Linked DNA regions of Homo sapiens: region 2 is linked to region 1. Evidence: fine-mapped expression QTL. A gene starts in region 1. The other region holds a variant in brackets. All regions are shown on one strand. Distances are between the middles of the regions. Region 1 holds the start of TMEM67 (transmembrane protein 67). Region 2 overlaps TMEM67 (transmembrane protein 67).

The links.
Region 2: its variant is fine-mapped to the expression of TMEM67 in atrial appendage (GTEx, PIP above 0.99). The same link has a PIP of 0.9 or more in left ventricle.

What each region holds. Positions count from the first base shown.
Region 1 is chr8:93,750,381-93,759,832 of GRCh38, reverse strand. TMEM67 (transmembrane protein 67) reads right to left here and starts at 4,939. Exons shown (of 28, transcript NM_153704.6): 1 at 4,696-4,939; 2 at 3,967-4,055; 3 at 1,257-1,350. The coding sequence starts at 4,918.
Region 2 is chr8:93,789,457-93,798,908 of GRCh38, reverse strand. It overlaps TMEM67 (transmembrane protein 67), which reads right to left. Exons shown (of 28, transcript NM_153704.6): 15 at 7,590-7,646; 16 at 5,613-5,711; 17 at 3,402-3,500; 18 at 2,922-3,008; 19 at 1,676-1,775; 20 at 1,439-1,578. Among named protein-coding and RNA genes, the nearest start is that of TMEM67, 39 kb to the right of the region's middle. The variant A/G (reference allele first, on the strand shown) is at 4,181.

The DNA of each region.
Region 1 (9,452 bases):
CCACTAAAAATATAAAATTAGCCAGGTGTGGTGGCACATGCCTATAATCCCAACTACTCGGGAGGCTGAGGCAGGAGAATCGCTTGAACCTGAGAGGGAGGTTGCAGTGAGCCAAGATCACACCATTGCACTCTAGCCTGGGCAACAACAGTGAAAACTCTGTCTCAAAAAAAAAAAAACAAAAATAAAAATTAAAATTAAAAAAAAGGATATGCCTACTTATTTTTTCTTTTTTGTTGCTACTGTATATGAGGTATTTTCTTCCATCACTGTTTATAATAATTTTTAGTCATTCTGTTGGGTGTTTTAAACATACAATCAAATCATCTGTAAACAATGATATTTTACTTTTTTTTTTTTTTTTTTTCATGAGACAGGGTCTTACCCTGTCGCTCAGGCTGGAGTGCAGTGGCGCCATCTCAGCTCACTGTAGCCTTGACCTTCCAGGCTCAAGCGATCTTCCCACCTTTGCCTCTCGAGTAGCTGGGACTACAGGTGCATGCCACCGTAACCAAATAATTTTTTTTTTTATTTGTAGAGATGCGGTTTCACCATGTTGCCCAGACTGGTCTCAAACTCTTGAGCTCAAGCAATACACCTGCCTTAGCCTTCCAAAGTGCTAGGATTAACAACGGCCTACCTTTTCTTTTCCAATGATAAATATTTTTTTTCTCTTACTTAAGTGCATAGTTTGCATCCTTTTCCAGGTCCTGACATTAACAGGAATGCTTACGCTTTTTCCCTATTAAGTATCAAGTTGGCTTTTGAGTTGAGACATATTTTGTCATGTTATGTTAAGGAAATAACCATCTAATCCTACAATATTAAGAGTTTTAAAAAACTCAGACAAAACTTTGTATTTTCTTCTCAATGCCTGCTGATGTTTTAAGTATCATTAATTTGTACAAAAATAATTTTTATAAACACTATTAAGGGCTGGACACAGTGACTGATGCCTATAATCCCAGCACTTTAGGAGGCTGAGGCAGGAAGATCTCTCGAGGCCAGGAGTTCAAGACCAGGCTGAGCAACATAACGAGACCCAGTCTCTACAAAAAATTTAAAAATTAGCCAGCTGCAGTGGTGTTATGTGTGCAGTCCCAGCTACTCAGGAAGCTGAGGCAGGAGAATTGCTTGAGCCACTGCAAAAATATTAAGTAATCACTTAACTATTTAAATTAGTGCCCTTTTCAAATAAAAACAAAAACAAGAATGAAGATTTATCACTACTTCTTTATAAGGAATCTAATTCTTACCTAAAATATGGCCAATGGGACAGTGACATTTTCCTTCGGCAGTTAAGTCACTAGGGCAAGAAATGCAGTTCCAGCCATCTTCTGTAACACCTTTCTAAATTAAAAGAAAAAAAATGCTTTTCTCTTTTTTAATTAACTTTCTTCTTCTAATCATGTAAGTTCAAAATGCCATAAGAGTATGTAACTACAGTGAATATTCAAATAAATCATACATATATGAGCCACATAAAAATTCCCTGGAGAGATAATTCATGCTTATATTCCAAAATGAAGCTCTATATTATCACTATGTCCTGAAAACTATTAAAGGATTAACTCCGGATAATAGTTCTCTCTTCTTCAGGATCTTTAATTCAAATGGATGCCTCTTTCATAATTATTTGTCATTTCGTTTTTCCATTTACAAATATAAAACACAACACAACACAAAAAGATTGAATCAACGGTCAGTTAATAGGTTAATCTTACCTGTTCTAAAACTCTATTCTAATTTTTAAAAATTCAAATACCTAAAAAATTTAGTCCAGGCACAGTGGCTCACGTCTGTAATTCCAGCACTTTGGGAGGCCAAGGTGGGTGGATCACTTGAGGCCAAAGCTTGAGGCCAGCCTGGCCAATGTGGTGAAACCTCGTCTCTACTAAAAATACAAAAATTAGCTGGGCGTGGTGGTGTATGCCTATAATCCTACTTGGGAGGCTGAGGCACCAGAATGGCTTGAACCAGAAAGGTGGAGGTTGCAGTGAGCTGAGATCGTGCCACTGCACTCCAGCCTGAGCAACAGTAATACTCTCTTTCAAAAAAAAAAAAAATTCATTTATGATTCAAAATGGGTAAATTTTATGAAATATATAAATTATACACATAGTTGTTAAAATTGATTTATGAGAATATTTTCTTCTATCCATTTATGGCTTGTACTAGTAAAGGTTTTTTTTTTTTTGAGACAGAGTCTTTGCTCTGTTGCCAGGCTGGAGTGCAGTGGCACAATCTCGGCTCACTGCAAGCTCTGCCTCCCAGGTTCAAACAATTCTCCTGCCTCAGCCTCCCGAGTAGCTGGGACTACAGGCACGTGCCACCACGTCCAGCTAATTTTTGTATTTTTAGTAGAGATGGGGTTTCACCACATTTGCCAGGATGGTCTTGATCTCTTGACCTCGTGATCCACCTGCCTCAGCCTCCCAAAGTGCTGGGATTACAGGCGTGAGCCACCGCGCCCGGCCTAGTAAAGGTTTTTGATAAAGTATGACAGCATTCAAAATTGGGCTTATTATATCATATGGTTTAGGAAAAGCCTGGGGCAAAAAACACAATAATTACAAACACAGATGTAACCAAAGTTTATAAAGAACAAAAATAATGCCACAAATTATTTTAAATTTTGGTTGAAAAGACTGAATTTATCAAGAAATACTCCTATATTTGGCAATACATTTATACAGGACAATTTATTTATTTATTTATTTATTTATTTATTTATTTATTTATATTTTATTTATTTTTTTGAGACAGAGTCTCGCTCTGTCACCCAGGCTGGAGTGCAATGGTGCAATCTTGGCTTACTGCAACCTCTGCCTCCTGAGTTCAAGCGATTCTCTTGCCTCAGCCTCCCAAGCAGCTGGGACTACAGGCACGCGCCACCACAGCCAGCTCATTTTTGTATTTTTAGTAGAGATGGGGTTTCACCATATTGGCCAGGCTGGTCTCAAACTCCTGAGCTCATGATCCACCAGGCTCAGCCTCCCAAACTGCTGGGATTACAGGCATGAGCCACTGTGCCTGGCCTATACAGGACAATTTAAAAATTACAATAACTTAAACAATGTCACTGAAAAAGAAATCTGCTGCGAGACCACTTTTTATTAGCAGCTTTTTATCATGGGTAATTCAGCTAGGATCAATATTTGCAAAGATATAAAATAAATGGTAATCTATTATAATCTATTATAAAGATATAAAATAAATGGTAATATAAAAAGTGGTAATCAGACTTACAAGTAATACAGATAGCTATAAATTGGGACAATTGATAACTTCACATTAAATTCCCAGAATTAATATTTTTTATATGACAATGAGAAGAAACATTACTGTAAATGTCACAACTGTTACACAGACTTTTAATTATCCAACATGATTGAAAAATATATTTATGTTGAGAATTATATATAGTAACTATTTACTAATTTTTTTTAAATTACGATACAATGAAATTACTAACAAAACAGAAACAGACATTATTTAATCTATTAATGCAATTGGTATTTCATGAAATAATTACACCTTAGATATCATTATGAACATCAATAATCATATAAACTGTTGACATGGTAGGTCTAAGACAACTCCACTTGCATCAGTCAAAAGAATATACACATCCCAAATTGCACACATCCCAGACTGCTCTATATATGCCTTATTCATCTAATTTTCTTCATAACCGAGTTATTCTACGAGTAAAAACAAAAACTTAAATTTTTACAGCTTTGTGGTTTTTGGATTTCAGATTTTAAAAGAAATACATTTCTGTTTTCTCCAAGTTTGCATGAAATTTCGCTGATCTCCCAAAACTTACTCTAGTAAAAATAAAATTAGCATAGTAATTTTAAAGTCTGTGGGGAAACATTAAACATTAAATTATATTTTGAAAAATAAAGATATTTAACTTACTACTTTTTACAGGTAAGTTATTTTAAAATAAATTATGCGCACCATGTTTTCTGGGCACTTTTTACAAATAATAGCAGGTCCTCCATTATTAGAGATCATCTGAAATCCTGGTAGACATACACATGAAGTTCCTAAAAAAAAAAAAAAAAAAAAAAAAGCCAATTTTATCCTTGATAAATAAAAATAAAGTTCCCAGATAGTGAAACTTTTAATAAGTCTGAAGATCTTGAGAAGCAGTATAGTGATTAACAGCAGGATTCTGGAGGCAGTACTGCCTGGGTTCAAATCCAGAAATACACTTCTTGAGTTCCAATCGTAGTAATCCTACTCAGTTGCATGACCTTGAACAAGTTACTAAACTCTCTGCCTTGGCTTCCTCTACAATAAAATGGAGAAAAAAAATTGGTACCTACCTCACAGGGTTAGTATGAGTACAAAATTAGTTATTATACGTAGAGGTCTTACACTGGCACACAGCTGGTATTATGCTGCTACCATTTTAAGTGCAAGTATAACTAAACTATTAAACTACTTAACTGCTGCTGGAAATTTTACATTTCTACGTCACTAAACAATATACATGTATTCGGGCCAGGCGCGGTGGCTCACGCCTGTAATCCCAGCACTTTGGGAGGCGGAGGCGGGTGGATCACCTGAGGTCAGAAGTTCGAGACTAGCCTGATCAACATGGTGAAACTCCATTTACGGGGACTAGGGGCCGACCAAGGCGGGAGTGTTACTTTTGCCAGGGCCCACCGCAAACCGTCTTACCTCGGGCATCTTGCCTCTGGTTAGCTCCACAAGGAACACACGAGAGGGCGGAGATATCAAAGTACTGGTTGTTGTCGCACTTCTCCGGCTGCTGGAAAGGGAAAGAGAAGGTCTGGGCCTGTAAGAAGCGAGGGAGGAACAACAGAAGGAACGCGGTCACGGCCCGGGCGGATAAGAGGGACCAAACCGCCATTGCCACCCCAGCCCCACCGCGCGTCGCCATGGTACCGACGCTGGAAGCCTCACAGCCTCCAGCCCCCCATCAGCCTCTGCGGCGGCTTCGCTGAGCTGATTGGACAACCCAAGTCCGGGTACCGGAAGTCACTGCTCGTGTTGCTTGGTTGCTAGGTTACCAACCCTGCGCGAAGTTGGCAGGTCCAGTAAAGAATGGGTTAGAGACCGGTTAACCCTGGAGCCCAGCGATATTTTCAAACGTGTATAGAGTTCCTCTACTTACGATAGGGCTGCCCCCTCCCCGCAATAAACCCATCGTAAGTTGAAAATATCATAATTTGTCGAGTTATAGTTACATCAGAATTTATTCAGACTAGGTAATTTTCACGTTAAAGGAAACATGACTTGTAGTTTAACAATTTGATGTCAAAAAACCCCACTGACTTAAAACCCAGTGAAGGATTACTATAGCTCAAAGACTGAAAAAATAAAAAAACTTTCCTGCCAGGTTTGAGCATAGGAAATCATGTATGCGAGACAAAGTACGAAACGGAAGAAACCATGTTTGCTCATTCTGTTGCCAGCGAAATTTCACAAAGCCCCTGACTCAGTGACTGAACGCAGTCCTCCAGAAGAATGCCCTGAAGACAATAAGTAGGATAGAGCACAAGTTTTCACATCTGTTGCTTGAATCACTTCATTTTTTAAAAAGATACAGTCAGCGATCCTAGCTCTTGCCTCTTCCTGTACGTAAGATAACGTGTGACAGGATTAATGATTATGCCTCTGTAATCTATAACCAGATGTAGTCTCCAAACAAAACTTTGATGAGATTTTGCTCCAACGTAACTTCTGAGCACGTTTAATGTAACTTTTGAGCACATGCAGAACTCCATCCCTTGATGTAGAAACTGGGGGCAGAACAGCTGCTTTGGACCAGTATAACATAAACTCTTTGAAAGACTCTCCAGGGTTGCATTCCTCAGTAAGACTCCGAATAAAACTAACTTTGAGTCTTTAAAAGCCTGATTTTTTTCTTTAGTTGACATGTATATAAAATGAGATCACCTTTACACCTTTTGTGAATAAAGGAATCTAAGCCTGGTGCTGTGGCTCACACCTCTAATCCTAACATTTTGGGAGGCCACAGTGGAAGGATTGTCTGAGCCCAGGAATTCAAGACCAGCCTGGGCAACATAGTGAGACTCCACCTCTACAAATAAAATTTATTTTAATTAGCTGGGTGGGTGGCACATGCCTATGGTCCCGGTTGCTTGGAAGGCTGAGGCGGGAGAACCACTTAAGCCCAGGAGGTCAATGAGCCCAAAGGCTGCAATAAGCTATGATCGTGCCACTGCACTCCAGCCTGGATGTCAGAGACCCTATATAAAAAAAAAAAAAAATCCTGGACAAAAATATGGAAACGTTTAGAGTTAGAGACCACTTGCGAGGCTAAGGTAGAAATCTAGAGTCTAAATTGGAGCCATGGAGGAAGGGAGAGGCAGAAGAGGATGAATAAAGGAGCTATTCAGGAAGAAGAATTATAAGAATTTTATTATTTGGACATAGGAAGTAAACAAACAGAATCAAGGATAACTTCCAGGTTTCTGATTTGGGTGGCTGGGTAGACGGTTGTGATATTAAAGGAAGATACCTGTGGTAGATAGCTTCTAAGCGAAAACTTATTGGATAAAGAAAATTTTAAGGTAGAAATGAAAGTTATAGGAATATTTAACATGGTGGGAGCTAGAGGTATGGATAATAATAGAAATAATAGGTATTAATAGCTTGTTTTTGTTATCAAGCAAATGAGCTCTCTATCCAATGCATGCACAGAAGCCAATACTATGTGGCACAAGCTTTTGAGGAAAAAAAGTCTTTATTTGCACAACTGGTCAGCAAGGAGATAGGAGTGCATTCAAATCTGTTTCCCTGATTTAGAGTCTGGGGTAAACTTATGGGCTTGGAAAGCCAAGGGAAGAATTTAGGAATGTGTCTTGGCAGGCAGAATGGAGGACTTGAAATTTGACCATTTAGAAAAAGGTACGTAGAGGCCGATTTTAGGCCTGATCCTCCAGGCAAATGGACCCAACACTTTTGAAAGAGTTCCAAGTTCAGGTTCCAGTCATGTCCCGGTCTTGGTTCCAAGGAAAGGATTCACTGGTTTTGGGTGTTGTTAGAGGTCCAGGCTTTTTCTATTGCACATGACTGGGCTACATGACTTTCAGTTTTTGGCTCTGTTACATCTAAAAGGTAACACGACATTTTGTTATCAACAGAGTAGGCTCAGTTTGGGCTAGTCCCATGGAGACACTTTTAATGTGTCCGGCATTGCAATATCTCATTTGATCCTAAATTGGGACTGTTATCATCACCTTTAATTTACAGATGAAATAACCAAGGCTTAGAAAGTATAAGTGACTTTCTAAGGTCACACTTAATTCATGGTTCTAACCCTGGTAATTTGACACCAGAGCCCATACTTTTCTTCGGGTTTTTGTTGTTGTTGTTGTTGTTTTAAACTTTAATTTAGGTTCAGAGGTACATGTGCAGGTTTGTTATATAGGTAAATTGAGTGTCTCGGGGGTTTGGGGATCAGATTATTTCCTTACCCATGTGATAAGCATAGAACCCAATAGGTAGTTTTTTGATCCATACTCTCCTTTCACCCTCCACCCTCAAGTAGTACCCAGTATCTATTGTTCCCTTCTTTGTGTCCACCTGTACACAATGTTAGCTCCAACTAATAAGTGAGAACACACAGTATTTTATTTCTTTCCTGTGTTAGTTTGAGATAGGAGGTTGGCAGGACTGATTTCACAGGATAAGATCATAAAGACCTGGCTGATAAAACAGGATAGGTAAAGAAGAGGACTGAAACCTGCTAAAACCAAGATGGTGACCAAAGTGACCTCTGGCCATCCTCACTGCTCATTATATGCTAATTACAATGGATTAACATGCTAAAAGACACTCCCACCAGCACCTTGACAGTTTGCCCCTTGCCATGCCCACTTAGAGAAGTTACCCTACATGGTCTAACAAGGGAGGACGCTCCGTTCCAGGAATTCCCCACCTTTTTCCTGGAAAACTCATGAATAATCCACCCCTTGTTTAGTATATGATCAAGGAATAACCATAAATATACTCAGTCTAGCAGTCCTTGCCATTGCTCTGCCTATGAAGTAGCCACTCTTTATTCCTTTACTTTCTTAACAAACTTGCTTTCACTTTATTCTGTCAGATTGCTCTTGAATTCCTTCCTGCATGAAGCTGAGAACCCACATGGCCACTCAGGCTGAACCCTGATTTTGAGGTTTTCTCTGTGACAAGTTTGCTTTGGATAATGCAGAGCCCACACTCTTAAGCCCTGCTTTTTATTGTTGCCTTTGAATCTCTGGATGTGCTTTTCTGGGCAGGAATAAAGAAAAGCTAAAGGCAAGTAAGTTCAAGATGAGATTAATGAATTAAAATATTACAAAGAAGGTGAAAAACAGAAGTGGAGGTTGTGGTGAGAAAGGGGAATTAGTGAGGTTCAGATCTTACATCTGGGGCACTTTGTGTGGTGAACCCTGTGTTCATTCCCAATCTCCAGACACTTAGTGCCCTTTTGATTTGTTAATCTTTTGTGTGTAACTTGTTTTTTACTTTCTTGAAGTCTTCAGGATGTTCCTCTCTGTGCCCCACCTTCTCATTTTTCTTAATTTTACAGTGATGTGTCTGGGCATGTTTCATTGTCATCTTTTGTGTGGAACACCTGTTGTAACTTTGCAATTCAGCAAAGAAACTCATGTCCTTTAACACTGGGAAATGATCTCTTCTACTAATTATTCCTTTGAAGACTTTCTCTCCGTTTTTTTTTTCTTCTGGACACCCTATTTTTCAGATACTAGACTTCCTGGACTGTTCCTCTAATTTTCTCAGATTATGTTTTCATTTTTCTTTTCTTTTTTCTTTTTTTTTTTTTTTGAGACGGAGTCTCGCTCTGTCGCCCAGGCTGGAGTACAGTGGCGGGAGGCGGGATCTCCGCTCACTGCAAGCTCCGCCTCCCGGGTTCACGCCATTATCCTGCTTCAGCCTCCGGAGTAGCTGGGACTACAGGAGCCCGCCACCTCGCCCGGCTAATTTTTTGTGTTTTTAGTAGAGACGGGGTTTCACCGTATTAGCCAGGATGGTGTCAATCTTCTGACTTCGTGATCTGCCCGCCTCGGCCTCCCAAAGTGCTAGGATTACAGGCGTGAGCCACCGCGCCCGGCGTGTGTGTGTGTGTGTGTGTGTGTGTGTGTGTGTCGGAGTTTTTTTGCTCTTGTTGCCCAGGCTGGAGTGCAATGGCACGATCTCTGCTCACTGCAACCTCCACCTCCTGGGTTCAAGTGATTCTCCTGCCTCAGCCTCCCGAGTAGCTGGGATTACAGGCATGTGCCACCACGCAGGGCTAATTTTGTTATTTTTAGTGGAGTCGGAGTTTCTCCATGTTGGTCAGGCTGGTCTCAAACTCCCGACCTCTGGTGATCCACCCATCTCGGCCTACCAAAGTGCAAGGATTACAAGCGTGAGCCACCGCGCCCAGGCTTCATTTTTCA
Region 2 (9,452 bases), 39 kb before region 1:
AGATAAACTAGCTTGATTTAGCCATTCCACAATGAATACATATATCAAAACACTGTATTGTAAACTATAAACATATGTAATTTTTATCTGTCCATTTAAGAAAAACCAAAATACCACTTCAAGTGAACTTTGGAAGTCTTGTTCATATTATTTTAAAGCCCTAGGGATACAAACATTCTTCTACTAGTTTTATAAAAGGAAAGGAAGGGAAAGGGGAAAGAGAATGGAAAGAAAGAAGAAAAAAGAGGGAAGGCAGACAGACAGACCTAAGAGTTAATGATTTATATTCAATCTTAATTAAGCAGATAATTCCTGAGAAAACCTATTCCCATATAAACTGTTTCCATGTTCAGTCTTATACTCAGTACTGAATACTTCCTTTAATAATTCCAACCAAATCCATGAAATAACTGCATATGTATCACAAACATGTTGTGTTTTGTTCAGTGTAGCCCCAGCTCTTAGCACAGAACATAGTCTACAGTAAGTGTTCAATACAAATTTGTTGAAAAATATCAAACTTATAATAGTGATTCTAATGCAGGGGAGAATATGGATCGGGGGTAGGGAGCTTTTTCAAAATATAGATACCTGGAGTTACCTCAAAGCTACTAAATCAACACATAGTCTCTAAGGGTGAGCCTGAGCATAGGTATTTTACAAAAGATCCCCAAGGGATTCTGATACAAACCAGTGGTTTTAAAGCTACTCCTTACACCTAGAGCAGTCAAACACACAGAGACAGAAAGTATTATAGAATGGTGGTTGCCTGGGGTTAGGTGTAGCAGGGAATGGGTACAGAGTTGTTTAAGGGGTATAGAGTTTCAGTTTTGCAAGATGAAGAGTTCTAAGATGAATGGTGATGATGATTTTGCGTGGCAATGTGAATGTACGTAACACTACTTTTTGTTTGTTTGTTTTTTTCTGAGATGGAGTTTTGCTCTTTCTGCCCAGGCTGGAGTTCAATGGTGCAATCTCGGCTCACTGTAACCTCCGCCTCCCGGGTTCAAGCAATTCTCCTGCCTCAGCCTCCCGAGCAGCTGGGATTATAGGCATGTGCCGCCATGCCCAGCTAATTTTGTATTTTTTGGTAGAGACGGGGTTTCTCCATGTTGGCCAGGCTGGTCTTGAACTTCCAACCTCAGGTGATCCGCCTGCCTCAGCCTCCCAAAGTGTTGGGATTACAGGCATGAGCCACTGTGCCTGGCCAACTTAACACTATTAAACTCTACACTTAAAAATGCTTAAGATGGTAAACTTAAAAAAAGAATTGTGGTAAAATACGTAACATAAAGGTACTCCTTTTTAATGGCTTCACAACAATATTTCAACCTTTAGAGAAATCTTCCACTGTCATGAAAACTTAGTTGGAATTATATTAGTTTAATATTTATAAGGTACATGTAAGTCGCATATAATCACATCAAACAGTTTATACCTCCAAAAAGAAGAGGACAGTAAGTACTTGAAAGAGTGAATTAATTTTTCTCACAGTCTGAATTTCATTCCATTCATTTGCTACAAAATATGTTCTCCATATGCTTACAGGAACAGTGGCACTTCGTACACCACCCTCACCTGGTCAGGAAAATAAAATGAGTAAAAGAGTTTTACCTCCTTTGCTCTGCAAGGGTAGCAAAAGAATTTTGGTACAAATATTTTTTATTTCAGTTACCTTCAACAGCTTTAAGAACCTTTCCTTTAGGTCGCTCCCAATCAATAAAGAATACATCTATTGTAATCTGGGATATGAGCTTATGCAAAAATTGTAGTGCCTGAGAATGACATATAATAAAACACCTGAAAAAGTACCAGCGTTAAGTCTGCTTATAAAACCAATATTGACTCTTTAAGAAACATACTGTTATCACAAGAACATATAATTTTATGAGTGAATTCACATGAAGTTATAATACCACTAAGGAATCATTAGAAGCTCATCAGATAACCTGGAATCATCAAATTCACAGAATTTTCATATACATCTTAATTTACCTTCCCTTTTTCTTTCTTTCTTTAAAATAGGAATATGAAAAGAGGAGACATTTTTCCTCCTCCTCACATAGGGACTTATATAATTGACTCTTTCCCAAAGATTCTAGAAGCACACTTTGTTTTGTAGATCAGCTGACTTCTTTATAAGTAAAGATATTTTCAACTATAGTTTGTTTTTCCTAATTAAAGTTTTCGAATGCTCTTACTGTCTTTTTTTTCTATTTCTGCTATTCAGATTTCTGATTTTTAAAGAATGTGCTGTTGAAACACATCTTTCTTATTTATACAAGCAATATGTTTAAACTGAGGCATTCTTTCTAGTTGCTGCATTATTCATCAAATAAAGGATAAAAATCTAAGTATGAGATACTTCACCTCAAGAAGCTCCCAGTCAGTGGAAAAAGCAGACACTTAACACTCACAGTAAAATAGGATAAGGACTACCAACAGGCATATAAAGAGATTCACCTACATTGATGGAGAACACTGAGTTGGGGATTGGGGGGCCATAGGAAGAAAGGAGCAAAGGAATCTGGAGACAGACAAAACAACTTTTAAGATCTCAACACTTTATCCAGAGTGGTACCTTTTACCCTTGATTAATGGAGACAAAATTCATGCCTGAAGACATTTTGTCCCATTGTGAATGTATCATCAGACTTTAAAGAAAGTTATATACTGAAATATCATTTTATCAAATAAGCCATACAAATTCATGGCTTCTTTGAAAAAAATATTTAAGGCAGAGTTTCAGACTGAGCATCTACTATAAATAAAAGTAAATTTACCACATAAAATAATTAATGCTTTCTTTCAAAACCAAAGTGAATTTCACGCCAAAGATTTTTGAAAGCATTTTAATTTTAAAGACTTGTTAGTTCATTAGCAGGCCTTTTAAATTTGGTAACCTGTCCTTTAAAACTTACCTTCAGAGCAAAGGCACATCCAACATAAGTGACAAAACGTTCTTCCTGAATTGGCATTGGCAGCAAAACAGACACAGACTTCTGTGCCTATAATAAAAATTACTTGATTAAATATTATCACACACAGTTTTTTTTGTTTGTTTGTTTGTTTTTTGTTTTCGTTTTTGTTTTTTTTTGGGAAAGGAGGGTCTCAGTATGCTGCCCGGGCAGGACTTGATTCTGGACTCACAGGATCCTCCCACCTAAGTCTTCCAATTGAACAAGGTTTTTACTAAGCACAATTTATAAACCAAAGAAAGCATAAAAGAGGAAGATAGTGATGTAATCGATAAGCTCAGCACACTCAAGGAATGGGGAGTTGGGAACTTTTCTTAATACTGTTGATCAAAAATTCTCTCAAATAAAAATAGTTCCTTTATAAAGAAAGCTTTTCAACTATTCAGATATTGGCAGTTGGGGAAAATTCAGAAACTCACTCACTTTGAAGAAAATAAGCCAGTAAAGACCTGTTCCCACTGTGATGATAAAGAAAACATTGGCCAGATCACCAGCATAGTACACCAAGAATTTCACAACTGTCTGCAATTTAAAAAAAAGAATTACAGCTGTTTAAGACTCCATGTATATACCACTTTTAGTAACACTACCACTTTTATACATCATCCACTCCATTTCTTAAGCCTGAAGCCTTGTTTCACATATCCCCATATGATCCAGCTATAAAGACCACCTGCTTCCTCCTCCTTGCTACCTTTTGGCTCCTTACCTTTCTGGCCGTTCCTGGTAGCCTCTTCTTTCAACTCTTCTCATCTTTCACTATCTAAGAAAATTGAACTGCTTCCTAATTTTCTCTTAGTTGGGAATCCTCCCCTCTAATCTCTCCTCCACACTACCACCAGAGTTAGTTTTCTAAGATGTAAATTGGATTGTGTCACTCCCCTTGTTAAAAATGAACAACTCCTCATTGCAATATAAATTCCTGATCCACAAGGTCTTTCACAATATGGGCCAAAATTAACTTTTTAGCCTCATCTGCCAGTTCCAGCCATGTAGTCAATGACTAACCACTCCATACGTTCATCTCAAATACTTTCTGGAATAAAATGGGCATTGTTTTACCAAATATTCTTCTCTTCCCCTCTCTGGTAAGTTCTCATGATTTCTGAGAGCACAGACTATGTCTGTCTTTGCTCACTAACACATTCTCCAGCTCCTGGTAGAGTGCCAGACACTTAGACAATAGAGCCTCAGTGACTATT[A/G]TAGAATGAACAGATAATCCCACTTAAAGTTCATTTCTCTGGGAAGCCTTTCTGGACTATCCCAAGTAGTAAATCAAGTACCCCTGCTGATTCCTTAGCCCACTGGCTTTGGAATCAGAAAGATACTTTGGTTAAAGCTACCATGTAACCTTTCTCATGTTCTTCATCAACAAAACGGAAATACCTATTACTGAGTTGCAAAAATCAAGTGAGTAGAAAATTTAACCTTTACCTCAATTTCATCACGTGTAAAACGCAAATAATAATAATAACCTAACTTCAAAGAGCTACTGTGCGGATTCAGAAAATTACATACATAAAGCTTTAAAAAGTGCCTGGTACATGGTAAATATTTTTTAAATGTTTAATAAAAATAAAAGGTTAACCATGAAGTGAAAGTATAAAGTTAATAGAATAAAATGTGGACTATCTTTGTGATCTTGATATAGGGACGGTTTTCCTAAACAAGATCCCAAAAGCACGTATCATAACATGAAAAAAAATATTCAGATATGATGATATCAAAACCAAAAGTTTCTGGCCAGGCGTGGTGGCTCATGCCTGTAATCCCAGCACTTTGGGAGGCTGAGGTGGGCGGATCATGAGGCCAGGAGTTCAAGACCAGCCTGAACAACATGGTGAAACCCCGTCTCTACTAAAAATACAAAAATTAGCCAGGCATGGTGGTGTGCGCCTGTAATTCCAGCTACTCAGGAGGCTGAGGCAGGAGAATTGCTTGAACCCGGGAGGCAGAGGTTGCAAGTGAACCAAGATTGTGCCTCTGCACTCCAGCCTCAGCGACAGAGTGAGACTCCGTCTCAAAAAAACAACAACAAAAAAAAACAAAAATGAAAACAAAAACAAACCTGAAAGTTTCTGTTAAACAAAGGACTACATGGATAAAAATAACGGATGGGTCACATATTTATTTGGTCATATATTTCAACATCAGAAACCAAAAAGGGGTTACTATTTAGAAAATACAAAAAAAAATTCTTCAAATAAACAATAAAAACTGGAAACATAATAGAGAAATGGGCAAGGGATATAAACAGGCAGTTCACAGAAGGAGAAACCCAAACGATTAAAATGTATATGAAGAGTACAGAGAAATGAAAATGAAATCAACAATGACATACTACTATATGCCATGAGGTTGGCAAAAAATGAAAAGGTTGGAAAAATATCAAGTGTTGCCAAGTATGTGCAGAAATAAGAAGAGCATTGCTGGTGGGAATATAGACTGGCATACAGTATGGTGGGAAGAAAATGAGGTACACATATACCATATGACCCAGCAATACTTACCCTAATTACATATCCCAGAAAAATTCAATGCAACTTTTTTACTTATTCTCTAGCTGTGTCTTATGAGAAGGATCCAGAATGGTCAAAAGATAAAAATATTCTTAAAAAACTCCTGAGATTATACCTGTAAATCAATCATGGGACTCCCAATGCGCCTCTTCCATCCTGCTGTCTTCAAAAGAGATGCTAAAACAGCTAGCCCACCCAATACACCCAAAGCAATCTAAAAAACAAAAGAACAATTGAGAATTTATGTAATTTCTGTCATCGGTGTTCAAAAACACTGTGAACAAGTAAGGAAGTGCTCAAAAAAATGGTGGGGTGGGAAATGTTGAAAGGACACAGGAGTCAGCCGGGCACAGTGGCTCACACCTGTAATCCCAGCACTTTGGGAGGCCGAGGCAGGCGGATCATGAGGTCAGGAGATCAAGACCATCCTGGCTAACACGGTGAAACCCGTCTCTACTAAAAATACAAAAAATTAGCTGGGCATGGTGGTGGGTGCCTGTAGTCCCAGCTACTGGGGAGGCTGAGGCAGGAGAATGGCATGAACCTGGGAGCGGAGCTTGCAGTGAGCCACCAAGATCGCGCCACTGCACTCCAGCCTGGGCGACAGAGTGAGACTCCATCTCAAAAAAAAAAAAAAAGAAAGGACACAGGAGTCAAGTTGGAGGAACTTGTAATGGCCAAATCTGGGACAATTTGAACAAGAAAACAAATAATAATATATTATAATTACTAGAATAAAATAAATATGAGTTCACACTGATTTAAAAATAAATAATTGAATAAATAATGTGAGCAAAGGGAGTTTCTCCTTATAGTAAAGTTCCAAATTAATAAATAAAAAAGTAATTAGGGAAACAGAAAATCACCATCAGGCAAATATCACAGTGAAACTTTCTGCAGGCAAAATCATCAATGGATGCTATTTAATAAAATTAGAGGGCCGGGCACCGTGGCTCACGCCTGTAATCCCAGCATTTTGGGAGGCCGAGACGGGCGGATTGCCTGAGGTCAGGAGTTCGAGACCAGTCTGGCCAATATGATGAAACCCTGTCTCTACTAAAAATATTAAAAAATTAGCTGGGCGTGGTGGTGTGTGCCCGTAATCCCAGCTACTAGGGAGGCTGAGGCAGGGGAATTGCTTAAACCAGCTAGGTGAAGGTTGCAGTGGGCCGAGATAGCGCCACTGCACTCCAGACTGGGCGACAGAGTGAGACTCCATTTAAAATAAAATAAAATAAAATTAGAGGGCCGGCTGGGCATGGTGGCTCACCCCTGTATTCCCAGCACTTTGGGAGGCTGAGGCAGGTGGATCACCTGAGGTTGGGAGTTCGAGACCAGCCTGACCAACATGGAGAAACCCCATCTCTACTAAAAATACAAAAATTAGCTGGGTGTGGTGACACATGCCTGTAATCCCAGATATTCAGGAGGCTGAGACAGGAGAATCGCTTGAACCCGGGAGGCAGAGGTTGCGGTGAGCCAAGATCGTGCCATTGCACTCCAGCCTGGGCAACAAGTGCAAAACTCCGTCTCAAAAAAAAAATGAGAGGGGGAGAATAAGAAGAATAAGAAGAAGCAGGATGTTTGCATAATTTCAAAGAATCTCCCCCATGAGATACTTATTTTTATTTATTATTATAGCATCACTTTGGTGGCATCTTTGCCAAAACTATATGAACTCAATTTGATCATGGGAAAATACCAGACAAACCCAAATTGAGGGCCAAAATAATGGACCAGTACTCTTCAGAAGTGTTAGGGTCATGAAAGACAAAGAAAGACTAAGAATCTGTCACACATTGTAAAACACTAACGAGATATGACAGCTAAAAGCAATATGTGACCCTAGATTGGGTCCTGAAACAGAAAAAAATTCAATAGTGAAATTCAAATAGTATGTAGTTTAGTTAATAGGACTACATCAATATTAATTTCCAGATTATGATCATTGTACTAAGGTTTTGTATGCTAACATTAGGGGAGTCTGGGGAAAGAATAGCTGGCAAATTTGTTTTAGCAACTTCTTGCACATCTGAAATCATTTAATTATAAAATACACTGTATATATTTTAAAAGGTTAAAATAAACTTACATCTGTCTGGACATGTGCTTCTCCATGATCCATTTCATATGTGACTGAGAAAGAAACCTGATATTTAAAACAAAACAAATTAGCTATACTGAAATTATATGATACAAACTTATTTTTGTTATAAAAATACATTTGTAGCTGGGTTTTACCATAAACACTATAGTTTTTAACTATCAATATTACTAGAGTTGACCTTTAACTTACACGTAAATAGATATGCTTTTGAGAATTACTTGTGCTGCTTTAAATATCCTTTCACATACATTAAAAAAGGGGCTCATTAGGAGATAAGTTAAATTCATGCACAAACTAATCATATTTCATTTTCTGATAGACTTCTGTAACTGAGGAATTTGACTAAACTTGTGCATCAGGAATTTAGCAATTGGGTAAACCACCAGTTGCTAAACCGCAGATTAATCAAAGGTCTGAACAAAATCTTAAAGATACCACTACATTAAGAGACAAGAGAAAGAAGAACCTAGTAAAGGGTCAGAGAAGAGGACTGTGAGGGGTAGGAGAGGAAGATACCTAAGTCTTACCATGGTCACAGAATAGGGAGTTTCAAGAAGGAGGAGGAGGTTGAGTACAGTGTCAAATGTTGTATAAATGTCAAGGTAAAGAAAGCCACTATATGTGGAAATCATTGCTGACTTTCATGAAAGAGGTTTTCAAAGAAGTAAATGGCAAGAGCCAGACTGCAAATGATGAAAGAATAAATGGTTGGGAAATGAAGAAGAGATATAATAGCAAGCTGGGCAGCTGGCAGAACTGAGTAAAATGTTTGTTTGTTTAGTTGGTTGTTTTAGTTTGTTTTTAAGATAAGGCAATCTCAGAGTTTTTATAAGCAAAGGAAAGGGACTTGCAGAGAGACTTGGCTGAATAAGACATTAGGGATGGAACAGGATATTGGAAAAGGTACTGTAAATGAGTTTAGATAGAAGATTAGTTTAGGAAGAGAGGAAGGGACCTTCTTTCTTAGAAACAGGAACAAGAAATGGGAAGGACAATGAATCAGAGATTCTGAAATATTAAAGAGGAAATCTTAAGGAATTCATATTAGATGGTCCTGATCTGCTCAAGACCAGATAAAGAGCAGAGACATAGCTGGATGTTTACAACTGATGTAAAATTTTGCAACAGCTGCCACGAGAAATTAAGAAATGATGAAAGAATTGTATATTTTATAATTAGAATAATTTGAGGTGGACTTCATCAATGTAGTTTCATGACTTGACTTTTTTTTTTTCTTTTGAGACAGAGTCTCACTCTGGTGTGCAGTGGTGCAATCTTGGTTTACTGCCATCTCTACATCCCAGGTTCAAGCGATTCTCCTGCCTCAGCCTCCCAAGTAGCTGGGATTACAGGTACCTGCCACCATGCCCAGATAATTTTTTTTGTTGTTGTATTTTTAGCAGACAGGGTTTCACCGTGTTGGCCAGGCTGGTCTCTAACTCCTGACCTCAACTGATCTGCCTGCCTCAGCCTCCCATAGTGCTGGGATTGCAGGCATGAGCCACTACGACCAGCGGACTTAACTTTTTTCTATTTGTTATTTTTCAATTTATCAAGGCTTAGTTTAGAATTATTTTGGACAAGAATAATATTTAAAGAAAAAAACTCAGAAGTGTTTTACATTAAAAAAAAAATATATATATATATATATATTTTTTTGAGACAGAGTTTCACTCTTGTTGCCCAGGCTGGAGTGCAATGGCGTGCTCTCGGCTCACTGCAACCTCCGCCTCTTGGGTTCAAGTGATTCTCCTGCCTCAGCTTCCCAAGCAGCTGGGATTACAGGCAAGCGCCACCATGCCTGGCTGATTTTGTATTTTTAGTAGAGACAGGGTTTCACTATGTTGG